Linked DNA regions of Homo sapiens. The protein of the gene in region 3 purifies or fractionates together with the protein of the main gene of each other region. This does not show direct contact. Each region holds a gene or a part of one and is shown on either strand. Other genes may lie near its edges.

Region 1 (3,500 bases), on a different chromosome or scaffold from region 3:
AGGAGGTGCCAAAGATTGTATCAGTGAGATTTTATTTTCCTTCTCAGGTACTGTTCTTTCTTTTCTTTTTTCAGCTATTTTTTTTAACACATCAGAGAATGTTATCGTTTTGCCTCAACTGTCAAACATAATTCTTCAAAAGTCAACAGAGGAAGAAAAGCCCACTACACTCACTCAGAGTTTTACTCTTCCCATTGTTCTTTCTTCCTTCCTGATGTTCCAGGTCTCCTTTTACCATTTCCTTTCTGATAAGAGAACTTCCTTTGGCCATTCTTTTAGAGCAGTTCTATTATGACAAATTCTCTTAGTTTTCCTTCATCTGTGAATGTCTTATAGAATTATGAGTCGACAGTTGTTTCAACACTTGGAAAATGTACCACCTCCTTCTGGCCTTCATGGTTTCTCCTGAGAAATCTGCTGTCACTCATATTGTTTTTACCCTATAGGTAAGGTGCTGCTTTCCTTTCACTGCTTTCAAGACTTTAATTTTCATAAGTTTGACTATGGTATGTCTTGGCATGAATTTGAGTTTATCCTCTTGGGGTTCACTGAAAATGTAGGTTTATGTCTTTTGCCAAATATGACAAAAATGCAGCCATTACTTCTTCAAACACTTTTTCAACCCCACACTCATCTCCTGTTACTACAATGATGTGAATGTCACATCTTTTGTTATAGTCCCACAGGTCCCAGAAACTCTGTTCATTTTGTTCATTACTTTTTCTTTTAAGTCTGCTCTTTGTCAGGTAATTTCTATTGTTCTACCTTCAAGTTCACTGATTCTTTCTCCTGTCATCTCTATTCTGCTGATGAGCCCATTCAGTGACTTTTTTATTGGCTATTGTATAGTTCTAAAATTTTCATTTGATTCTTCTATCTTCTAGGTTTTTGCTGAAACTTTCCAGTTCTTGCTGAGACTATTTTTCATTTGTTTCATGTGTATCTGTAATTTTATGAAGCATTTTTATGATAGCTGTTTTCAAATCCTTGCCCTATAATTCCACTATCTGAGTCACCTTGCTGTTGAGATCTGCTGATGGCCTTTCCTCACTCAGGTTTAGGTATTCCTGATTCTTGGCATGACAAATGATTTTCAGTTGTGTCTGTTGTGTTGTTCCTTAGGTCCTTAGGTTCCTAGCCAGTCTGTCTTTTTCTCTTCACTTTTCAGGTCTTCTTATGCTTGTATTATAAATAACATCCTTAGCAGGAAAAATAAACACAAGTGTGTCTACTCTATCTTGTCTAAAACTGGAAGAGTTCTCGGGTGTTTTTGGAAAGTACTCTGTTCACCCAACGTTATGAAGAATAAGTCAAGATAATATTACTAATTTGTGTGGTATATTTCCCCCATATCATGAGCTCAGTCTCATCTTCACACTATGCATATTCATTGGAAAGTACTCTGTTCACCCAACATTGTGAAGAATAAGTCTAGATAATATTACTAATTCGTGTGGTACATTTCCCCCATATCACGGGCTCAGTCTCATCTTCACACTACGCATGTTCAGCTGGTAGCAAGGGGACGCTGACTCTGACCCCTTTTCATAGCTCATTTTCTTACCTGGAATGTTCTCCCTTCTTTTTCCCATTTCCTCCTTCAAGAGCCAACTCAAGAACCCCTTCCTTTGGACACCTCTCCACTACCACTGCTCACATAGATCTCTCCCTTCCCTGCCCCTAGATTTTGATTGCCCCATGGTCTGTTTTTCTTGAGGGCAGAGATCATGCCTCACAGGTGCCTAAACGATGGACTAAGTACTGAATGTGAAGGGCACTCTCAAAAATGGATTCGGATACTTTATTGCATGTGAGCAATGGAAAGAACCCAAAAATATATCTAATCCAACACCTAAGTTTGCAGATAAAGAAAATGAGGTTCTTGGCCAGGCACAGTGGCTCATGCCTATAATTCCAACACTTTGAGAGGCTGAGGCAGGCAGATTGTTTCAGCTCTTCAATTCGAGATCAACCCCGGGCAACATGGTGAAACCCCATCTCTACAAAAAATGCACAAATGAGTCAGGTGTGGTGGCACATGCCTGTAGTCCCAGCTTTTTGGGAGGCTGAGGTGGAGGATGGCTTCAGCCTAGGAGGCAGAGGATGCAGTGAGCCAAGAGCATGCCACTGCACTCCAGCATGGGCCACAGAGACTAACCTTGTCTCAGAAAAAAAGAAAATGAGGTTCTTGATTTATAAAACTGGAAAAGGCCAGGCACAGTGGCTCACACCTGTAATCCCAGCACAGATTACTCTGGGCAACAGAGCAAGACTCTGTCCCTCCCCCTCAAAAAAATAAGTTAAATAAAAAATAAAATAAAACTGAAACAGAAGGACCACACAAACCCCAAAGCAACAACAACAAAAAAAAACAGGGTATGTCAGCCCCTATCTCTTACTTAATTAACTCAAAGCTAATTGTTTTATTTACAGATCATTAGAAGCAATGATTATCTTGCCTGGAGAATAATTTTGAGTCTCAGAGAGCGGAAGAAATGTGGTATGATCCTAAGACACAAAGTCTGTTTCTGGGCATCACAGTCAGCTCCTTTCAATCCTTCCTTAGGACTGTTAGATTAGATTAGTTTGTGGAACTAGCCAATCCCTGGAGTCTAACACTAGCAATTTCCCGGTCTTCCAGCCTAGAAGCTATCTGACCTCAAAACTAATTTTCTTTCATGATCTTTCACTATTCATTGCCTTGATTTCCATGGAAACTCTATAATCACAACCAAAAATGTAAAATAAGAGAAGACGACATGAAACTCTGAAGAACCCCACAGACTTTTCAGGGCTCTCAAATGTCACCTCCTTGAAGAGACCTTCCCTGATCGCCCTTGCTACTCCTGCCCCCAACTACCACATTGCCTGGTTTCTTTATTTTTGCCTTTATCAGTATCTGAAATTGCTTAACTTATCTGTTCACATTTTTGGTATTCAGCTCCTCCATTAGAATGTAAGCTCCATGAAAGCAGCGCCTTGGTCAGTCTCGTTCACCACAGTATCCCAAGACTTAGAATGACACCTAGCATACAGTAGGTGCTCAATCACTATTGACCAAATGAAGGAATAAATAAATCAATAAAGAAGCGCATACATTTTTCCAAGTCTGGCTGGTCTAACCCTAATGGCTGTTTACCACCACACTCCAGGATTCTTGGTGGCAACATGTGGATACTCCAGGATTCTTTGGTGGCAACATGTGGATACTGCCAGTGGGCCAAGGTGACATTTCACTCAGTGATTAAAATGATCATGAGGAAGGTGCTCACGGGTACTCACTCTCCACTCCCCCTGATAGGAGTGGCCCTGCCTGCCTGACTTGTTCACTTGGCACTTGCAGGGCCAGGGAGCTTTTAAACTGGGGGTGGGGAGTGAGGTGTGTGAGCAGAGCTCAGCCAAGAGCACAGCTACCACTGACTCAAAGAAACTAAGGGTAGGGGTTGGGGAGAAGCAATATCTGACTGAGAGGAAAACAGAGGGACAACAGGGAAAGAAAG
Region 2 (3,957 bases), on a different chromosome or scaffold from region 3:
CGGCTAATTTTTGTGTTTTTCATAGAACAGGGTTTTGCCATGTTGACCAGGCTGGTCTTGAACTCTTGACCAGGCTGGTCTTGAACTCTTGACCATAGGTGATCTGCCCACGTCAGCCTCCCAAAGTACTGGGGCTACAGGCGTGAGCCATTGCACCCAGCCTTCACTCATTTATTGAATATATTTTAGTACTTACTCTGTGCTAAGCACTGTGATGAGCAAATACTTTTTATTTTTAAATTTTTTTAGAGACAGAGTCTTGCTCTGTCCCCCAGGCTGGATTGCAGGAGTGCAGTCATAGCTCCCTTCAGCCTTAAACTCCTGGACTGAACTGATCCTCCCACCTCAGCCTCCCAAGTAGCTGAGACTCTAGGCACACACTACCATGCTTGGCTAATTCTTTTATTTCTATTTTTCTTTTTTTTTTTTTTTTTTGTAGAGATGAAGTCTTGCTATGTTGCCTAGGCTCACCCTGAATTTTGGGTCTCAAGCTATCTTCCTGCCTCAACCCCCAGAAGTGCTGGGAATGCAGGTGTGAGCTCCCATACCTGGCCCAAATCAATAGTTTTAAAAGTATAAGTAATAAAGGAACAGTAGCTATGCTCGTGCACAGGAACATGAAAGGTCATTAATTTCTTCCCCCTAGTTTCTTATTTCGAAAACTGTTCTCTATGTTTCTACATTTCACACTGTCTAGTTAATTTTCAGGATTTTTTGGAGCCATTACAGGAGGTGAGTAAAGGAAGAAATCAGAAAAGGACATACTAGAAGTATCAGGAATAACCATTTTTAGTTGAATACATGGACTCCAGAAGAAGATACAAGCTTGACAGTGCTCATGAAAAGATATCTAATTTTCTTAAGTCTTTGACTCTGGAAAGCCCTTTGAGCTACCCATTATATAACAAGATTCGGCAGGTTTTTTCTTTCTCCCTTCATTGACATCTTCCGGGGAAAATGCTGCATGATATGATTTTCAAGGCTAACTTGCCTTTTCCTGTTAAGCAGTGTCCCTTGTGACAAATTCACCTCCTATGCCTCCCTGAACTAGGGAGGCTCCTTCAAAATTCCTAACAGGCAGCCCTGTGGAGAGATGGGAGGGAAGGGATGGGAGGGAGGAAGGGCGGGAGGAAGGGAGGGAGAGAGAGGTAGAGTGTGTCTGTATGCGGCGTACATGTGGTACAGCCAGGGAGATCAGAACGCTCACAGAACAGGCAGTGCAATTCCATGTTCCTCTTAAGTATGTTAGCCCTACCGGGAGCTGAGCTGGCCAGTCTACTTGGAGAGGAAAAGTAGATCTGGGGAAGGTGGAAGGGTCAGTTCCTAAGTGACTTCCTCCTCGGGGATGGTAAGGGCATTTGCTGATCTCCAGTGACTGCCTGGTGCCTCATGGTCAGACTCGGCTGTCTCACTCCCAGATATCTGATTTTGCAAAAAGGGACACACCTATCTGCAGCAAAGAAGACACTGACCAGATTGCGAGCGGTATGTTGTGACATTCAGCATGTTTATGCAGCAGAATTGCTGAGAGATGCAGAGAGAGGGGGTGGCTCGGGCTGCTTGATTTATCTGCAATAGGGAATGTTTTATTTTAATTGTCAGTTAAAGGAAGAATTGCTGCCAGGGCGAAGGTAGCAGTTAAACATTCCGTGTTCTAAGCTTTCACGTTTGTGTTTGATGCGGTCTCCCTGTCTGTGCCGCTTTGCGAAGCTAGGGAGGGCTCACTTTTAAATAACCTGCAGCTTCCTATTTTCCTTCTTCTTTTTTTTTTTTTCCTCCCTAAGCACAGTTCCCACCCTGTCTTCCCTGACCTCCTCCCCACCCTGTGTGAAAGGTGGCCTATCTTCCCCTTGAGCCTTTTGCTCCCTAAGTCTGGATTTTGGCTGCTTTTTCTGCAGGTGCTTTTGGATGCTCTGTAGCCACCCGGGGCCCAGGAGGACTGACTCGGCAGCAGGATTCGTGCATGGGAATCGGAGACCATGGCAGTGCAGCTGGTGCCCGACTCAGCTCTCGGCCTGCTGATGGTGAGTGTTCAGACAGGAGGTGGGGCCCGGGCAGCGTCCACTCCAGCCTCCCCTGCACCGTGGGCTGCTGCTGCCGCTGCAGTGGCTGCAGACATGTTCAACATTGCTCCGCTTTATCCCGCAGGCTCTTTGGAAATGCTTTCTTGGGTCAGAGTATCAGCATGACAAAGCACTTGCAGGGAAAAGAAGCTGTAGATTTGCCATTTCAGAAACTTGTTGCTGAATGCTATTTTGAGAGCTGTGCTTGCAAACAGGTGCTAAGAGCCCCTCGAAATAGATTGCTAGGATGCCTCCTCCAGCTCCCAGCATCCTTTCCCCCTTGTCTTTTGCATCTAAATTGAGCTGATTGTGTTTGTTTTTGGATATCTTCTCAGGGCAACTGTGGAATCTGTTGCCCATGGGGTGACAGAATGGGGTCTTCTTTCTAGGCGCCCATATATCTGCTCATACTTTCCTGTAGAGGTGGTGGAGGAGGTTCACTGTGGCTTCAGTGATGCTTGGGCTACTGAGTTGGGAGCAGCTTGTTTCCTATCTACCATTGATGGCCAACCTTGGCAGGACTTGTCCAGGCATTTATCTGTGTGTGAGCAGCTGACTCACCTTATGCCCCTCTGGAATTTTCACCATATTAAGAAAGCCCTAGCTCTTACCATATTAAAGCACACAAGGACATGGGCACTGTCTTGTTCCAACCCAATTGGCTTTTGGCTTGACACTAGGTTCAGCAGTGGCTTTTGCCATGGTTTTGCATCTCTCTCCTTTCCCAGGGTTCCCACACACCACGGTAATACTGGCTGTTGTCGGAAGTAGCCTGCATCAGGCTTGGCATGGAAATGTTTCCAGCATTTACACAGGAGATTTTATGAACCAAGCATAAGTGCTTCTGTGTATATTGATTTGTGTCTTCGGAATGAGGAGGGGAAATGCAACTTTGCAAGGCCTGATGAGTTTATGGAGGTGACTTGGAAGAGCCGTCAGTGGGAAGCCTGCCCCCTGGGTGGCAAGCCAGGTCATGTTAAAAGGAACAGATATCTTGGTTCTTCGTTGCTCAAAATTCCACTGGGTCCACAGATTTAGTTGAATTGCCTGAAATCTATCTCATGGGCCTCTGCTGACTTCTCATTTCACTGGGGGAGTAGGACTAGAAGAAATGAAATTGTCAGTTTCCAGAGAAATTACCCATTACCTGACTTCTTTCCCTTACTAATTCTATCGTCTGATGATACTTTATCCTCCATCGTCTACCTGTGGTCAAATAAACTGGATAGGAATTTTCATTCCATCACTGAGTATTCGTGATGATGGCTGGCACTAAAATGCATTATCTATGGGGTCTAGGAGACTTCTGGGAACCTGGGAGCCTGGGTTATATGCTCTGAAATACAGGCACACATATGCACACACACACACACACACACACACACACACACATGCATATGTATATTATATTATCTAGTACACTAACAGAAATAAATCCTGCATCGTGTTAATATAGAGGAGAAAAGTTTTCTTGAAAAATATCTTTAGGGAGAGTTAGACCCGCTTGTCTCAGCCTCCTACTTGGACCTTTCTTCTATACTTAGAAGAAAGATGTGTATCTGCTTTATTCCAAGCCCCTAAGCATGAATCCTTGGTATCCAAATTAAATGAATAGCATCCATTTCTGCTGTTATACACCCCCCCCCCCCACCCACACACACACACAGGCTCTTCTGGTCCTGGGTCTTCCACATATTATGGCTGCTGTCCTGGTAGTGTCTACATCTCAGACTTCACCTTCCATTTGTCAGTGGCCTCTGCCCTTAGATCTGTCCCTGGCACTCTCCTCCTGCCCGGAAAAAAGGATCGTGTTCTCCTCTCTTGGAAACCAGGGGAAAGAGCTCTTGACACCCTGATGGACCGTTTGATTAAAGAACCCTGGAGTACCATGTGT
Region 3 (3,765 bases):
CAAACCCAGGAGCTTGGCTATTGCTGCCTCTGGAAAAGGCTGGTAGATATCTTTAGTGCTGATGTAAAACTTCGTTCACAAACCACTGGAGAGATAGATGAAAATAATGAATAGGGCTGGGCGCCGTGGCTCACGCCTGCAAACCCAGCACTTTGGGAGGCCCAGGCGGGTAGAACACTTGAGCCCAGGAGTTCGAGACCAGCCTGACCAACATGGTGAAACCTCATCTCTACTAAAAAAATACAAAATTAGCTGTGTGTGCTGGCACATGCCTGTAATCCCAGCTACTTGGGAGGCTGAGGCAGGAGAATCACTTTAATTCAGGAGGCAGAGGTTGCAGTGAGCCGAGATCATGCCATCGCACTCCAGCCTGGGCAACAAAAATGAAACTCCATCTCAAAAAAAAAAAAAGAAGAAGAAGAAGAAAAAGAAAAAGGAAAAAAAAAGAAAATGATGAATAGATAGGTAGATTAATTTGTTAATTAAATAATATATCCAGGTAAGGTTTGAAACACAACCTTTATTACGTATGATGTTTACATGTTAGACTGAGTGCTGGTCCCTCATCTGCTTCATACCTTGGGCAGCCTGTCTGCTACTATCTCCATGGCTCTTTCTTCTCCCTGGAAGTGAAGAAAACAATTGAGGCAGAAGAGGAAGAGGCAAGAAACAATACAAGCATTGCTAGTCAGTTACCCTTCACCTTTGTTTTGAAGCTCAGAGTCATGCAACCCACAGTGAGTTCATTTCCAGATCAAATGCAGCAAAATGAAGGTTCTGAAACATTTCCAGTTCTCTTGGTGTCTCATCAGGATGATGTTGTTACCTCTCCAAATTCCCCTTTTCCCCAAGGGCTATATCTATGGGCTCAGGTGGGATCCCAGCTCAGGCCAAAGGCTCTCAGACTCCACACCTCTGATCTTGCTGGCATCCTGTCCTTTCAGGCCAATCCTGGCCCTTGAGGTTACACTGAGCTTCCGCTGCCTAGAAGAGCTGCAGCACCTCCTCTTAGAATTGAGGACAATCATGCAGACATTGAGAAAGTTCCCAGTCAATGCTCTTCACCTTGTCATCTAAGCAAATGGAGGACAATTCCCCCAGAAGCACCAGGTGCACGATAAGTTGATGTGGCTGCAGAGCCACCAGGTGACCCAGTGCATCCCTGCAGCTCCTTCCCTTGGATTCCTCTGGGCCCTCACAACACAGCCTCAGAAAACTGCAAGTCTCACTCCTTACCTCTTGCAAGAGAAGGCCACACCATCTTCCAGTATCTTCTGGCCCATAAGTCTCAGCTGCTGTGTGAAAATCAAACCAAAGAAAGACACTTCTTAGTTAATGCGACTTTTGAAATTCTCAGAATTTCCTGCAGGAGCTGGAAAGGTCAAGACAAATCCTGACTTACAATCGAGACTTTATTAGATGCCTAGGCAAGAAGCAGGGATCCCAGTTATGTCCCCCTCCATTGTTCCCTGAGCCAATAAAGCCCCCAAATCTTCCTTACAGAGACCTAAGCCTGAACTGGGGAGACAGTACTGGCTCGGGGAAGCCATTGCTCCCTCAGCAGACCCACAACCCAGGCTTTGCTCACTTCCTGTCCTTTGGAGAATGAAACACACAGCCTGGACATTGGCTCCAGGATCTCCTCAGGCCAAGGTCTTCTTCTGTGGGCTGCCCCTCCTCCTCCTTTGCTTCTGGTTTCTCTTCCTCCTCCTTCTCATTTCCATTTTCCTCCTCCTGCTCATCTTGGGTGCTCTCTGATTCCATGTTGCCTGTCAGCTGAGCCATGGTGAGATGAAAGACGTGGCAGCTGAAGCCCTCTCTGATCCCAAACTGCACATGCTCCTGGAGGGCTTCCATGGTGGTGAACACCCGGCAGCAGGCCATGCACCTGAAGCCGTTCTCCATGGTCACCAGCCAGTCAGGAGTCTTGGCTCTGGGTGTGTCCTCAACGGTGGGTGAGCCTGGCAGGCTGTCTGATTCTGTCCTTTCCTCATGCTCTTTCTCCTCCCCACTGGGCTCACTGTCAGACAGGAGGTTTCTGGTGGACACATCAGAGGGGGGAGTACCTACCCTCACAACCTCAGAAAGGGTCACTTCTTCCATCCTTGGCTGCTTTTCTAAGGACTCCAAAGTTTCCTCTGTCTCCCAGGAGACAGCCACACCTTTGTTCATTTGTACCTGCATGTAGTATATTTTCATGCCCCTTTCCTCTTTGTTTACACACAGAGAGGACACACAAGTCTTATAGGATGAATAGGACGACAAGGAGACATGTTGTGAGCGGGGAGGAGTCTCTCCTCGTTCCTGAACCTGGGCCAGGGGTGATTGAGGCTGGGGGCTGTCTCGATGTATTCTCTGGATTCCTGGGAAAGGAAATTAGAAACATGAGCAGATGCATGGGCCATGCTAGGAGCTGAGGGAACGTAAGTTAAATATGTGTGGTGCAGGAGACAGGGACTGTGGTGAGATGCAGCTGTGTAGTGAGCTTGGTATTTGTTGTTCATATTGTGGGGTAGTGATTCTAGTGTCATTTGCGTGTAGGGATGTTGGTGGGGTGTCCATATACAGGGGTGTGGAGTATGGTGGTGAGGACTGCAGCATATGTGGAATGTCGGCAGCATGTGTGTGCTATGAGGATGTGAGTTGGTGCCATCATTGATGTGTTATTTGTGGAATGTGGGAGGTAGTGTGGGAGAATGGCACTGCAGGTCATGCATTTGGGTGGTGTGTGTGCAGAAAGTGTACCTGTGGAGCGTGTGGCTGTATGTGTGAGGTGTGTGGGCCTGAGCTAGAGTCCCGCTGCAGTGCTGGAGGCCTGGGCTGAGGAAATCTGTCTTTCTCTGGAAGGCAAAGGCAGAGCCCAAATAGTTCCGATGAAAGTGCTTAATCTGGTCCTGTGGCCCTACACCCCAACAGCAGACTTTTCTGGCCTCTGCTCCCTGACTGCCTGACTGCACACCAGGGCTCATGCTCTCCTACACTGAGCTTATATCCATGCTCTTCTAACAGCTCTGTCATCTTGCCCAGACACCTCTGCAGAGCTCTGATCATATCCAACTGCCCTGGGTTTCTTCTTAGCCTCATCCTTGGATCTATGGGCCTCCTGCCCCCTACCCAAGGAGCCCTGCACCCAATCCCATGCCTAAGGAGTCCAGCACCCAAAGAGTCACATACCCATAGCGCCCTGCATCCAGAGTCTCATGCTCAAGGAACCTCACACCCAGAGAATGTCACATCCAAGGAGCCCCACACCCAAAGACTGTCACACCGAAGGAGCCCCAAACCCAAAAAGCCCCACTCCCAAAGAGTCTTACACCCAAGCAGCACTGCAACCAAAGAGTCTCATGCCCACAGAGCCCCACACTCAAATATTTTCATGCCCAATGAACCCCACAGCCAAGGAGCCACGTGCCGAAGGAACCCTGCACCCTTACCACTGTGGATGAGCTTGCGTGAAGAAGAAACGCAGGAGCAGTATTCGGAGGTAGAAGTAACTTCTCCCACCCCTTGGCTCCAGCCTTTGGCCACTCTAGTGGATCCAGGCTGCAGGGCATCCTCTTGGGACTTTGACATTCCTGAGAAAGGTATGAAGGGAACAGAGATATGATGGATGGGTAATGTTTGTGCATCATTTACCATCCAACAAATATTTACTGAGTGGCTGACCTATGTCAGGTGTAGTGAACACACATGGTTTGTGAGACAGGCTTCTGGTGGATACTCCAGTATTTAATTACAGTCAACAGGTATTTTGATAGTGTATCA
Region 4 (3,500 bases), on a different chromosome or scaffold from region 3:
ACCGTGTTAGCCAGGATGGTCTCAATCTCCTGACCTCATGATCCGCCCGCCTCGGCCTCCCAAAGTGCTAGGATTACAGGCGTGAGCCACCGCGCCCGGCTGGAAGCTATTCTTTTGTTGTTGTTGTTGTTGTTGTGTCACTATGTTAACCAGACTGGAATGCAGTAGATACTCACAGGTGCAATCATAGTAGACTATGATAGCATTGCCCAGGCTAGACTCAAACTCTTGGACTCAAGCAATCTCTTGCCTCAGCTCTTGAGTAGGTGGGACTACAGGCACATACCACCATGCCTGGCTCCTTTAGTATTTCTTGTAGTGTAGGTGTGCAGGCAATTCATTTTCCTTCATCTAAAAATGGCTCTTCACTTTCACTCTTGTTTTTTTTTTTTTTGAGACAGAGTCTCACTCTGTTGCCCAGACTGGAGTGCAGTGGCATGATCTTTTTTTAACTTTTTGCTACAATTTGCTAAGGTGTAATTTTTCCCTTGTCTATCTTGGTCTTTGAACTTCTTTTCACACCAAATGTGGAAATTTTCTTCAGTTTTTTTCTGCCCCATTCTCTCTCTTCCTTATGTATGAGATTCCTATTCCATGCATGCTAGTCCTATTTATTTTGTCCTGCAGACCACCAAGGCTCTGTTCATTTATATTTTATTTTTTTGAGACGGAGTTTCATTCTTGTTGCTCAGGCTGGAGTGCAATGGCGTGATCTCAGCTCAACGCAACCTCCGCCTCCCAGGTTCAAGCGATTCTCCTGCCTCAGCCTCCCGAGTAGCTGGGATTACAGGCATGCGCCACCAGCCTGGCTAATTTTGTATTTTTAGTAGAGATGGAGTTTCTCCATGTTGGTCATGTGGGTCTCAAACTCCCGACCTCAGGTGATCTGCCTGCATTGACCTCCCAAAGTGCTGGGATTACAGGCATGAGCCACCACACCTGGCCTATTTTTTAATTTAATTTAATTTAATTTAATTTTTTGAGACAGAGTTTTGTTTGTTACCCAGGCTGGAGCGCAATGGTGTGATCTCAGCTTGCTGCAACCTCCACCTCCTGGGTTCAAGCTATTCTTCTGCCTCAGCCTCCCAAGTAGTTGGGATTACAGGCATGGGCCACCACATCCAGCTCATTTTTGTATTTTTAGTAGAGACAGGGTTTCCCCATGTTGGCCAGGCTGGTCTTGAACTCCTGACCTCAGATGATCTACCCGGCTTGGCCTCCCAAAGTGCTGGGATTACAAGCGTGAGCTACCGTGCCTGGCCTGTTCATTTATTCTTCATTATTTTTCTCTGTGTTCTTCAGGTCGTGTATATGATCTATCTTCAAACTTCCTGACCCTTTTTCTTCTGTCTCCAAGATGCTGTTAAGGCCATTCAGAATTTTTTTTTCTTTTTTTTTAGAGATGAGGTCTAACTATGTTGCTCAGCCTAGTCTCAAACCCCCAGCCTCAAGTGATCCTCCCACCTCAGCCTCCCAAGGTGCTGGGATTACAGGTGCGAGCCACCATGCCCGGCCCCATCCCAGTGAATTCTTAATTTCAGATTGTGTACTTTGCAAGTTCTAGAATTTCTATTTGGTTCTTGTTTATATTTTTTCCTTTTACTCCTGAGATGTCCACATCTATTCCTCTATGAAGATTATATTTTCCTTTGTATCTTTAAACATATGTAAAATAGAGCCTTTAAGATCCTCATCTGATAATTCTAGTATTGCAGGGTCTGTTGACTGTTGTGGTTTTTTTCCACCCTGGTTGTAAGCTATATTTTCCTAATTCTTTGTGTATCTAGAAAGTTCTCATTGCATGCTGAACATTATAGTTGCTACATAACTGGACATAGAGATTTTATTATCTTTAGAGAATATATTGAGTTTTGTTTCCACAAGCAGTCAAAATACTGGCAAATCACCTTGATCCTTTTGAGGCTTGTTTTTAAGCTTATTAGTTTGGGTCTAGAGTAGCTTTTACTCTATGGCTTTGGCCCTACCCCTAAACTGTGGTCTTTCTGAGATGTCAATGGAGTGTCCAAGGAGTTCAGTAAGGTTTCCACTCGCTTGTCCAGAACTTTTATCTCCTAGTAATCTATAAAATCTCCAGTTCACCTCTCCTTTGCAGCTCTTTTCTACTAGGCCTTGTAAGCTGTTATCTACAAGCTTAGTATTTGATCAAAGACTTAAGGGGAACCTTTTGCAGATTTCTGGAGCTCTTTTTTTCTTCTCCCCCTTATTCTGCCCCACAAACTCCAGCCATCTCAGAAGCCCCAAATTCTCTGCTTCTTCAGATCACTGAGACCACTGTTTCCAGCTTAGGCTCTGCCTCTCCATAACACAGTTTGGGAAGTGCCCTGGGTAGAGACAGTGACAGTGGGGTTTTCCCTTCTCTCAAGGATCTCAGTCTTACATGAGTATTAGTCAAAACCTGACATACATAAAACAGTGGCTTTATATATTTTCACAAGTTTTATGCTTGTTTATAGTAGGAAATCTAATCTTTGTCAATTACTCCATCATGACCTGAGCCTTTTTTCTTTTCTTTTTTTCTAAAGAAGAGCAATTTATTTTCTTACAGTTCTGGAGGCTGGAAGAGTACCATTCAATCCACAGTACACCTTGGAAAGGGCTCGGGATCTGAATTTTTAATGACCACCTCTAGTTATGGTTGAGGCAGTTGGTCACACAGTGTCTTCCATTGTCTGCCTGTGTTTTTATAGCCTTCTCTGTTGTGGCTGTAAGTCGAGAAGTGGTCAAGATGCCTTGAGCTTCTCATTGCTTCCCATATCCCTAAGCCCTTCCTTCCTTCCTAGCATTCATGCACACAGTTCCCTCTTGGAATCTTGTACTTTTCCCCATTACCTTTTTCACATATTTATGTGTTACATAAAACCAGAGCCATTGCTGCATGCATTTGAGCAAGGTGCTTAACTTCTCAGGGTTTGATTCTTTAACTCTAAAATGTCTATTCTGTTTCTTAAGTTTTACATGTATACTAAAGACAAGAGTGCTTTTGATTTCCCAGTTGCTTTGCCATTAAACTTAGACCACAGGACCCTTCAGCATGAATGACCAATAACCCAATTGTGTAGTACAAAAAGTACAGCTAGGTACCAAAAAAACAACTGGTTTATCTCTGTCACTACCTCTGCCACAGAAGCACTATTTGTGGGCCCTGTTTCTTCATTTGGTAAAATGAGGGGTTGATCCAGAAGAACTCTGAGGTACTTCCCACTTCTAACATTCTCTGATAATCAAGAGTTCACAAAGAAGAGAATACTTACTTCACTTCAGTTAATCAAAGAAGAGATATAAAAATCCTTAAGACAGTCTCTGGCCATAAGGACGAAAGCACCTAAGAAGCAGATTAGTATATGGTCTTTTTAACCTTTTTAAAGCTAATACAGTTTCAGCCATGTCTGCCTTACCTGTAATACCCATATGACAGTTGTGAAATGCATCTGTAAGACCATCACAGAGTATACTGTCAGTCAGTGGCATCTCACCTATCT
Region 5 (3,500 bases), on a different chromosome or scaffold from region 3:
TTCCATCTTATTTTTCTTAACTAAAGTATTTTTGAAGAACAGAAATATTCTATCCACATTACAAAATGCCTGGAAAATGCAGAAAGAGGACAAAAAACCCACCCACAATCCACTTGGAGGTCACCTCCTGGCCCCACGTGCTGTCCGCCACAGTCTCCCTCCTGCCCTCCCGTGAGCCAGCCCCTGGGCCCACCAGGCCTGGCCCTGCGCTTCCCTGCAGCTTCCCGGCCCCACTCTCCTCCCGAGCCTTGGGTTCTTAGTGCTTCCTTCACCCAGCAGCTCTGGTGAGGGGGCTACTGAGTGCAGGCACCAGGCGAGAAGGCAGAGACCTGCCTCAGAGAAGGAGCCGTCAGCAAGGCCACCCGGAGGCCGGGGAGGAGGAAGCAGCAGGGGGCGGCCACGTGCGGCGCAGGCTGCAGGGTTCCCCGGAGCGATGACCAGGGCTGTCCCCGCAGCAGGAAGAACGAGCGTGGTCTCTTGTTCCCCGCTTTTCTCATAGGAGCCGCATCCGGCTGGCTCCACCTGCTTGCAGTCCGGGGCCCACATGCTACCCCTGCAGACATCCCTGTTGCCCCGCACCCCCATGCCCGGGCTACTCCCGGGCGCCTGCCTGCAGCTCCTGCCCGCCCCCCTTGGATTCCAACAGGCCACCCAGCCATGCTGGTCCTCACTGGCCTCCGGGGCGCTCACTGGCAGCCTGCATTGCTGCTTTAACTACAGCTTATTTTCATTGCAAAAGATTTTAAACGTATGGAAGATGTGGAGAGAATAATAGAACCCACACTCTACGGATTCAAATCTTAACATTTTCCTATTTGCTTTAGACGCATTTTTAAAGAAATAAAGCACCGCACATGTAGTTTGAAGATGCCTGTGTTCTCCTCAATCTTGCCGCATTCACTCTCCTCAGGCAGAACTACTGTCCTGAGTGAGGTCCCTAGCCGTATCTGCGAGGATATATACGCAGGCACGCACATACATGCACACTCACACACAGAACACACATGCACACGCACGCTCACCTATACACACGAGTAACAGTGGTTTCTCAAAGTAATTCGTCCGTGGAAAAAACTCAAACCCCCAGAAGTGCACCGGAAGCAGGTTCCTGGGAACTCTCCCTGTGGGGGAAGTCTCTGCACTCCCAGCACTGCGCTCTGTGACCCTCAGGCTGCTGCAGGCCGCACCTGGGACACCTGCCCTCAAACAGCTGCCCGCCCTGCAGGACACCATTTTCACCAGAAGGCAGGCCCTGTGGTGACGTTTCCACTCTTTGCTGTGAGTGCTGCCTCCAACGGCCACATACATGCAACCTGTCTGTGGTCTAAATTCCCAGAGGAGGGAATTCTTTTTTTTTTTTAGATGGAGTCTCACTCTGTCACCCGGGCTGGAGTGCAGTGACATGATCTCGGCTCACTGCAGTCTCTGACTCCCAGGTTCAAGCGATTCTCCTGCCTCAGCCTCCCGAGTAGCTGGAACTACAGGTGCACACCACCACACCCAGCTAATTTTTGTGTGTGTATATTTTTAGTGGAGATGAGGTTTCACCATATTGGCCAGGCTGGTCTCAAACTCCTAACCTCAAGTGATCTGCCCACCTCGGCCTCCCAAAGTGCTGGGATTACAGGTATGAGCCACTGTGCCCAGCCAGAAGAGGGAATTCTCAGCACGCCTGGTGGTGGGGTTGCCTTTATCTCTCTCGCCAGACCTCTGGGAGCTCACACCACCAGGGAGCCCACCTGGCAGGTGACTGAGTCCACAAAGGAGGCGCCACATGCCCGGGTGTGCTCATGCATGTGTGTGGGGCACTGCCTGGGAACGCCTGTGCTGCACCTGTCTGCTCTGGGGCCTCATGTCCCCTGCTGCACAGTGACAGCAGGAGGAGCCCGATGGCACCTGAGGAGTGGGGTGCACACATGTTCATGTATGTGATCACATGCATGTGTGTACACGTGATTGTGCATTCATGTGCATGTATGGAAACATGCACATAAGCAGGACGGCATGTGAATGTGTGTAGATGAAGCTCATACATATGCATGAGCACCTGTGCATGTGTGTGTGCAGTGCCTATGAGCGTGCACGTGTCGTGTGTGCCTGTGTTGTGTGGCGTGGGCACATGTGCACTCTTGGGTTGTCCCTATCTGGAAAGGCCCTTGCTCCTGACCCAGCTGTACTTCTGCTGCCAGCTTGTCTCCCTTTCTTTCCTAACTTTCATCTAGACCATGTCATGGATGGTCCTCAGGGCAGTCTTGCTACACAAGCCCAGTTCCCACCCACCTGGTGGACCCCGGAAAGCTGGCCTCTAGGAAGGTAGGCTGCAGGATCCAGAAGCCCCTTCCCCTCCAGTTCCTGCTGCAGCCACCACGAGTCCCATTCCTGCCCCATTCCACCTGCCCAGCTCTAGGAAGGCACAGGGCTCTGTCCCAACACATGCTGTGGCTGTTCCTGTCCTTGCCCCTGGGCCCCAGGAAAGTAGCATATGACACTTGAGGCCCGCCCCCGCCCCAGCTGCTATGTTCCTGCCTCCTCTCCACCCTCTGCCTGGCACCTGCCTCTCCCCTGCCTCATGCCTCCACTTTCACCTGTCCTTTCCTGGAGGTGGCCCCAAGCTTCAGGTCTGACCTCTCTTCCACCTGTAGCCAGTCCTTCCAGCAGCCCCCAAGCCAGCCCCCACTAGGCTGCCTGGCTCTGCCCTCCTTGCATCAAGAGAGAAGTCTGGTGTCCACATGTCCCAAACACCTCCTGTCACTTAGTTAACCTCCCTTTCTAATGTACAGAGACAGCTGCCCCTCCCACTCCACAGGGGTTCTCAGGCGCACAGCAGCAGGCAGCTGGAATGGAGAAGAGAATGACATTATGTCATTTGGTTTCCAGTCTGCTTTGGTTCTATAGTCACCTTACACTAATGGTAAGTGAAACTAATCTTCTGTTTAATGAAGTAATATGCAGTGCTTTTAAACAAATTGTAATTAAAATGGGAGTTGATGGGAAGAGAAAGCGTGAAGTAAACAGAAGAGGAGATGCATGGTCAGAGTTCCAATCAAGAGTGGTAACCGTGCTGAAGTACGGGAAGCAGGTCCGTTGTGAGACCCACCCACCCATTCCACAGATGGGAAGCCTAGGCTGCCCCTGCCCTGCGGAATGGCGCTGCCCAGACCCCAGCTCAACCCAGCCCCCACTCTGCCTCCCCACATAGCACATGGGAGCTTTTGTGTCCTTGATATCCAGGCCCCTGAAGAAGGGCATGATCCCTGATGGAGGGAAAGGAGGGGGGCCCAACATGAAGAGGTGCCCGGGTCGGGAAACCTGCTGGCTGAGGACAAGCTGTCCTGGCAGTTCCAGAGACAAAGGGGAGGTGGTGGGCAGGGCCTGGGCTTGGAGGGGTCTGCACGAGCCAAGAGCCTCTGCAAGTCAGGCCTTCCAGGTGCCCTGACATGAACAGGAGCCTTTGCATTGCCTGTGGCTCTCTTGGGGTGAGGCAACAGGTCCAGGCAGGC
Region 6 (3,500 bases), on a different chromosome or scaffold from region 3:
TGGCTACCCCTTGAAAAAAGGTTGTGGATGGGAGTCAGGAGCTATGAGAACATCTCTGTAACAACCTCTAACTTCCCTTTCTACCCCAGGGATCTATCATAATAGATTGCATTATTAGAATTCCCATGATTTACTCCACAAATTCTATTCCCTTACTAAGTCATGTCCTCCATGATTTCACCCTGTCCTCCTACACCAGGAAGAGAAATGGTGATATGTGCTTGACAAGAACTTGGGAATAACCAAGCCCCACACAAATGCTCAGCGACTTCCATGCTGTGACTACTCTTTTCATGAACGAAGATGTGATAAATCGTGACGACTGAAAGTTGTAGAGATTTGTTGGGATAAATGGGAGAATCTCCAGCAACTCTCAGCGGAAGCTCCCGAGGAGCTAGCAATGGGTGTGACATGAGAGACAAATGCAGCAATCCTGAAAGGTGACCAGCCTCATACATGCTAGCCTAGACTGTAAGATGCTCTGAAGACAGGAGGCATCTCAGCCCCGTGCCTCCTCACCACACTCATCACTTTCCACCTCCTTGTATCCTACACATAAGGAATTCCTGTTGTTGGGAACCAGATCTGGTTCATTGTTAGCCCGTGGAGGGCTGCACCTCTTCTCCTTCAGGGCCACATGGTCCACTCCACTTCTTCAAGTCTTGGATCAAAATCAGTGCAGCAAGACCCCGCCCTGACCATTCTATTTAAAATTCCATCCCTTACTATCTCCCTATCTTATTCCTCCCAGGATAAGTAAGCCCATCTCCCTTTCTTATTTTTTATGGACTTTCCCCAGTGAAATACAAACCCCAAGAGAGCAGGAGAGGGGTTTGCTGCATTCCCTTGGCATACCCAGAGCCTATTGCAGTGCCTGGCACGTGGTCGTGATGGAACGAAGCACTGATAAATAGCAGGCTGGTGGGGTTGCCGGATGGATGGAAGGAGGGAGGTTCTACACACAGACTCAGGCCCTCAGCCTCCTCTGGAGGGAGGGAGGAGGCACGCTATGGCATGGCCCCATTCCTATGGCAGCCATCCTGCAACAGCTATTCAACTTTCCACTTGTGGAGTGAAAGCATGAAGTTTAATTCCACCAGATGACTAATGTCCTAATAACTTTGGTAATATGCCACCCTTATAAACTGCCTGCATTCTCCAGCAGGATCCCAAGGAAGCAGAGATAAATACATATATTTAGGGAAAATTGACCTTTAAAAGTCAAGGTTCCATGGGCCAATTCCCAAGTCATAAAGAGCTCATGTGAAAAGTAACCTTTAGTTTGCCATCAAAACTGGTTTCATAAAGAAAGCGTTTTAAATATACATTTGGGAGTTTCACAATAGGTTCCTTTTACACTGCTGATCTGTGACATGAGACAAGGCTTGCCAAGATTTTCAATAAAAAAGGATATATTGATCTAATTACCTTCTATTCAGGTTCTTTAGCACCCTCAATTTCTGTTCTGGCTGATGCAACACTGCATCTCTACTGTGCAAACTTTCTATCATTGGTTGAGCATCCCCTTCCAAACCCCAAGAACAGGGGTCTGGAACTCAACCCTTACATCAATCAGAAGAAATATTTCCTTGGCAGACACAGAATCAACAAGATTTTCTGGACCTCCAGGGCAGTGCCAAGGTTTCTGAGCATAGTAATAGCTATGAGCATCTGAAGTTATACAGATGAGTTCTGAAGTCAAACCTACTCCAGTCTTGAGAGTTACACACACTTTCCCAGGGGAGAAAAACAAAATCAGAAGAAAAGCCAGTCAGATCCATTTGCATAATTTGGCAGAAAGTGCAACCGGACAAACAGCAGCTTTTCTGGGCCGTCTGCTCTGAGGAAATGAATAATATTTATGGCCTAATAAACTGTGTGCTCCACAAGGAGAGGGGCAATCAGAGAGCCCAGGCAGAGCTGTAGGCTGGGTGAAAAGACACAGGAAGTCGGGCATCGACACAGAAAACTCAGATGTCACTGAGGGAAACAAGAGCCGGCTTAGTGTTCCCCGTGGAGGCTGGACTTTGGTGGGAGACACCAGGAGAAGTGCTCACATCTACAGTTCGCGTCCTGCCTTTGGAACAGAACATCATAAACCCTAGAGTCAGGCTCACCTGAGAACCACAAAGTCTCTGGAAGGATGGGGAGCCATGCTGTTCAGCACATACTGGTAGATCTCTGTTTGCCTGTCTAGAGTTTCCACAACCTTCCACTGCACAAAGTCCTCGTCCCACAGGTGGCGCTCTCTCAGCACGCGGTTCAGGACCACTGAGGGGGGTGCTTCCACCTCCACAGAAGCCTTCCACAGCTTCAGCGGGTTCCCGTCGCCCACCTTGGGAAAGACAACGTCAGAAGCTGAAGAGGTTGTCTGGGATATGGGTCCAACATTTTTTGTTTGGGCTTTTAGTTTTGCTATCATACCTTGCTGGGTGTTCAAAAACCATCACTGATTATGTAAATTGAGAGTGATACTACATACCTCAGCTGTAACATTTTAGTCCTTAAGCTTAAAAGAATAATAATGATGATAAAAATAATAATCACCAACACACCTAGTGGTTACTGTGTGCCAGGAACTATTCTAAGCCATTTGGTTTGTAAATTAGCCTTCCTCCGACAGTGGTACTCTTACAATGTCCATTTTGCAAATGGGAAAACTGAGGCACAGAGAGGTGTGTGACTTGCCCAACATCACACAGCTACGGGGGAGAGACAGGACCGGGATCCAGCTGTCCGGCTCCATAGTTTACTCTCTGATTATAGGCAACAGATCTCTGGACTGAGTTCTTTGAATGGTTCATGTGCCTTAACTGTCCGCGTGTGTGCCAAGCCCTGTGGACACAGCAGCTGTTTTCAATGCAAAAACAAATGTCTGATTGTTAGCTGTGGCTTTCTGGGGGTGATCTTTTTCCATCCTCTGAGATTACCTTTTTGAAAGCAAGATCTGTATTGTCCGTGCTGGAGCACGTGACCCATCCTTTGAACTTCTCCTTGGCTTCTTTCTGGAGGCCCTGGATGAGATGGTTCAGGTAAGTGTGGAAAGTTGCCCCACTCTCCTCCAGCTGTGTCCCCAATTCTTCCAGGGTTGGCACGTGGATCTCAGCCTCCACATACGAGTTACGAGACTGGGCCACCAACTCGTGTGGAACCTAGACCAACGGATGCATGAAAGGGCAACACACTGAGCCAAAGAAACGCCGAGACTCAAAGAAAGCAAAGCCATTTCACCCACAACCCGGCTCTGAGCCACGGGCCGAGGGCCACACGGCCAGAGATGTTTTTCTAAGATCATTGCCAAGGCCGGGAGGGGCCTTCCTAAAGTCAGGAAATACAAACATGTTTCTGAGGCTGTATTTATTATTCAAAACATTGCAATGACTTCCCCTTTATTATTTTCACTTCCCTTTTATTTTACCTTTACTGTCTTTTTATTCAGTTTGGCAAAATATGGGCTCAGACAACTTTACCCACTATGAATAAGACTTAAAACAGACAGA
Region 7 (3,500 bases), on a different chromosome or scaffold from region 3:
TTTTTCAAGGGGCCAAATACACAGCAGCAGGAAATGTACTGGATAAAATGCCTCAGAATACAGCTTAAGCTAAATAAAATTCCATTAGCAACCTTCACTGAGTTAATGATTATAAGCTAATCACTATGAACCAAAAATTTGTGAATAAAACGAAAACTTACAACATGGTTAAGTTTATAGGAGTTATACTCTAATTTAGGTTGCAGACCACATAACAAGACAAAGACGATCTTGAAAACATATATAAAAATGTGCACAAATTGAAGCAAATTCAAAAAACAAAGCGTCAAAAGGACACAGGGAAAAAGAGAAATGAGCATGTAGTACAGAGAATTAACCAGAGAAGGTTGTTGGAAGAAGCATAGCTTTGAGTGACTGTAAATGGAAATACACTACACTAAAAACTGGAAAAGCCAAATTCTAATTAAGTAGAACAATCCAAGGGCATGTTTGCGTAATCAGTAACCAGTTTGTCTGAAGGTTTTAATAAGTCAGGTTTCTGTGGGAGAAAGTGTTTTGATACGTTGTTTTCTCAAGAAATATTAATACACAGAAACCAGCAATCTAGGCCCCTCAAAGAAAAAGTCATTCTGCATAGTTGTATGGATTCCTAGGGATATAACTGTTTGTACCAATAAACTATTTTTAGCCATGTGGATTGAAATAATTATATCTTCTGGCCAGGCGCAGTGGCTCACGCCTGTAATCCCAGCATTTGGGGAGGCTAAGGTAGATGGATCACTTGAGGTCAGGAGTTCGAGACCAGCCTGGCCAACATGGTGAAACCCTGCCTCTACTAAAAATACAAAAATGAGCCAGGCATGTTGGCACACGCCCGTAATCCTAGCTACTCAAGTGGCTGAGGCAGGAAAATCACTTGAATCCAGGAGGCGGAAGTTGCAGTCACCTGAGATCACACCACTGCTCTCCTACCTGGGCAACAAAGCAAGACACTGTCTCAAAAAAGAAAGAATTCTCTCTTCTTCCAATTGTGCTAAAGGCTTAAAGATGTAGTAGAAAGCAGCAACATGCAGAGTGCATGCATTCCTTCATCTTTATTTCCCATCTCTCTTTCCCAGGAACTGATGAATTAGACTTAGCAAAGAAACATGAAAAGCACTCCTCCCAGGCCTCCTTACCGCAAGACTCACTAAAACATCTTTTTCCTAGCTCTTGAGGTTTTTGGCTATACCTGCTGAGGGAAGATTTAGTGTCACCAAGAACTCTATGGTCTGTCCTTCATGGCCTTTGTAGTCAGGCTCCACCTCTAAATACTCTCTCAATGAGCCTACCCTGGGTTCTCTCTCTCTGTACCCAATTCTGCTGTGGACTTGAAAACTGATACAGAATTATTATAATATCTTAGGATTACTTATCAAGATCACCCAGGCTTTTTTTTTTTTTAAGGTACACTTTTTTTGTTTGTTTGTTTTGAGACGGAGTCTTACTCGTGCAGTCTCCGCTCACTGCAACCTCCACTTCCTGGTTTTAAGCAATTCTCTGCCTCAGCCTCCCAAGTAGCTGGGACTACAGGCGCCCACCACCACACCCGACTAATTTTTTGTATTTTTAGTAGAGATGGGGTTTCACCATCTTGGCCAGGCTGGTCTTGAACTCCTGACGTCGTGATCCACCCGCCTCGGCCTCCCAAAGTGCTGGGATTACAGGCATAAGCCACCGCGCCCGGCCTAAATGTAACATTTCTAAGTCATGCTCCTAGAGATTCCAATCTGGGAGAGATGAATCCATGTGTGTTCCTGCTCCCTGTGTTATTACAGCATATAGTGGGAGTTGAGAAGTACTGCTGTAAAGAAAGAGTAAATGCAGCCTGAGAGGTTCTCCCCTAAGTAAAATACATGGAACCATAAAAGTTCTCATATTTACTTCCTATTTCCTATTTCTCAGCTATATTAGTGAAGTCAGAGGGACTGAGAAAGAAAGAAACAGTTTATAGGGGGCATTAGATATGGTACCAGTATCAACTCCACAGCAGGAGTAAGTAATCCATATATGGCAAGCATACTTCTTTGACAAGTAAACACATAAGAGAGTAGTAAAATAAAAATAAAGTTTTCACACACAGGACACTGTTGACATTTACAATGAAAGGCATAAAGACTCATCTGATTTGACACAGTAGGCAAAAAAGTGGCATTGCACCTTTTTAAGCAAAAGAATTATGACACTTCTATAGCTGCATGCAATGTGTAATATGATCATGATCTGAAGGAGAATGACCCATCAGAAAAATGATATAATTTTTCAAAGATAAAATAACAAAGGCAGAGAAGGTAGTGGTTAGCTGTAGAAATAAAGACTAAAGTTTGTAATTGACAATAATTTCTTATAAACTGACCACACTCCCTACACAGAAGATGAGTGAGAAATTTTCTGAAACAGCTTGCAGAGTACTGTAACAAGACATCTTTAAAGGCAAAACCAGAATAATATAAGAATTATTTCCCTCCCTCCAGATGAAACCTTATTAAACAAAAACATAATCATAAAAGGTCAAAATTCAAATGTACATAAATTCAGAACATGATTTGCTACCTGAAACAGTCACAGTTGACCCTGGGTCAATAATTCCACTGTTGGGCCTCACACAGTACCGGCGAGGTGCTGTAGTCTTCACTTTGAAACACACTTTTCTATCCGATGGATTTCGCAATTTAAGATTTGTAGTGACTACATCTGTGAAGGGGCCTGTAAAGTTTAAAAATTAAAGAGAAAACAAAATTTAATTGGATTCTCAACAACGAAGGATTCAAAACTGAAAATATATAACCTCAATTTTAATTAAGTGCTGACATTTGTAGGCATAAATATCCCAAATGGCTACTAACACTGCCTTTCTCGAGGTGGCAGACTTAAAAACAAGTCATATTTTCTTCTTCATTCCCTGTATTTCACAAAATTTCTACCATAAACATGTATGATTTCTATCAAAAAAGTACTATGAAACTTTGGATCTATGAACTTTACAACTGTATTTTTACAGTATGTTGTTAATACGTTGCTGAAAATAACAGAATTTCCCAGTTGTCTGCAAACCAGTGTCAATCTTCAAGTTCATTTTACTAGGCCAACTGCAAAAATCTCTACATCTGAAGACCCTACACCCTATGACATCAGTGCTTTTGCTTCACCTCAATTTTGTTTGTTCATTCATTCAATCCATTCATTCATTCACATATTTGTTAAGTGTTTATTATGCCATATGCTCTAGATACAAAGTTTTTAAGCTTTGGTTCTGCACCCAAACAACATAAAATTACAAAACAAAGAACCCAAAAGGCTGATCCATTTTGCTGAAGAAAAGCCTGAAGAAAAATTATGCAGATTAATTTAGACAACAAAATAAATACCTGTTAATTTGGAGGAAGAACATAAAAACATGTTCCAGTTGGGAACAATAACCACAGTTCTAAGTATTCCAAAAGTAATTTTAAATCGTTCTAAAAACAATTCGTTTAAAGTTATGTATTTTTTAAAAAAGC

What was found.
Region 1: the proteins of FAM170A (region 3) and NTPCR purify together in Homo sapiens (co-immunoprecipitation; one large-scale study listed by IntAct). This does not show direct contact.
Region 2: the proteins of FAM170A (region 3) and FRMD4A purify together in Homo sapiens (co-immunoprecipitation; one large-scale study listed by IntAct). This does not show direct contact.
Region 4: the proteins of FAM170A (region 3) and ACAT2 purify together in Homo sapiens (co-immunoprecipitation; one large-scale study listed by IntAct). This does not show direct contact.
Region 5: the proteins of FAM170A (region 3) and CAMK2B purify together in Homo sapiens (affinity purification with mass spectrometry; one large-scale study listed by BioGRID and IntAct). This does not show direct contact.
Region 6: the proteins of FAM170A (region 3) and STARD13 purify together in Homo sapiens (co-immunoprecipitation; one large-scale study listed by IntAct). This does not show direct contact.
Region 7: the proteins of FAM170A (region 3) and VAPA purify together in Homo sapiens (affinity purification with mass spectrometry; 4 studies listed by BioGRID and IntAct, with this or other methods). This does not show direct contact.

The regions. Positions count from the first base shown.
Region 1 is NC_000001.11:232,971,111-232,974,610, reverse strand, and holds part of NTPCR (cancer-related nucleoside-triphosphatase), read right to left. Parts: intron 1-3,500. UniProt on the Homo sapiens protein: Has nucleotide phosphatase activity towards ATP, GTP, CTP, TTP and UTP. Hydrolyzes nucleoside diphosphates with lower efficiency.
Region 2 is NC_000010.11:14,328,125-14,332,081, reverse strand, and holds the start of FRMD4A (FERM domain-containing protein 4A), read left to right. Parts: upstream 1-1,157; 5' UTR 1,158-1,485; intron 1,486-1,898; 5' UTR 1,899-1,979; coding exon 1,980-2,024; intron 2,025-3,957. UniProt on the Homo sapiens protein: Scaffolding protein that regulates epithelial cell polarity by connecting ARF6 activation with the PAR3 complex. Plays a redundant role with FRMD4B in epithelial polarization. May regulate MAPT secretion by activating ARF6-signaling.
Region 3 is NC_000005.10:119,632,558-119,636,322, reverse strand, and holds the end of FAM170A (protein FAM170A), read right to left. Parts: intron 3,576-3,765; coding exon 3,435-3,575; intron 2,364-3,434; coding exon 1,589-2,363; intron 1,296-1,588; coding exon 1,289-1,295; 3' UTR 1,237-1,288; intron 624-1,236; 3' UTR 501-623; downstream 1-500. UniProt on the Homo sapiens protein: Acts as a nuclear transcription factor that positively regulates the expression of heat shock genes. Binds to heat shock promoter elements (HSE).
Region 4 is NC_000006.12:159,768,545-159,772,044, reverse strand, and holds part of ACAT2 (acetyl-CoA acetyltransferase, cytosolic), read right to left. Parts: coding exon 3,417-3,500; intron 1-3,416. UniProt on the Homo sapiens protein: Involved in the biosynthetic pathway of cholesterol.
Region 5 is NC_000007.14:44,221,095-44,224,594, forward strand, and holds part of CAMK2B (calcium/calmodulin-dependent protein kinase type II subunit beta), read right to left. Parts: intron 1-3,500. UniProt on the Homo sapiens protein: Calcium/calmodulin-dependent protein kinase that functions autonomously after Ca(2+)/calmodulin-binding and autophosphorylation, and is involved in dendritic spine and synapse formation, neuronal plasticity and regulation of sarcoplasmic reticulum Ca(2+) transport in skeletal muscle.
Region 6 is NC_000013.11:33,107,756-33,111,255, forward strand, and holds part of STARD13 (stAR-related lipid transfer protein 13), read right to left. Parts: intron 3,153-3,500; coding exon 2,931-3,152; intron 2,336-2,930; coding exon 2,118-2,335; intron 1-2,117. UniProt on the Homo sapiens protein: GTPase-activating protein for RhoA, and perhaps for Cdc42. May be involved in regulation of cytoskeletal reorganization, cell proliferation and cell motility. Acts a tumor suppressor in hepatocellular carcinoma cells.
Region 7 is NC_000018.10:9,931,016-9,934,515, reverse strand, and holds part of VAPA (vesicle-associated membrane protein-associated protein A), read right to left. Parts: intron 2,707-3,500; coding exon 2,554-2,706; intron 1-2,553. UniProt on the Homo sapiens protein: Endoplasmic reticulum (ER)-anchored protein that mediates the formation of contact sites between the ER and endosomes via interaction with FFAT motif-containing proteins such as STARD3 or WDR44.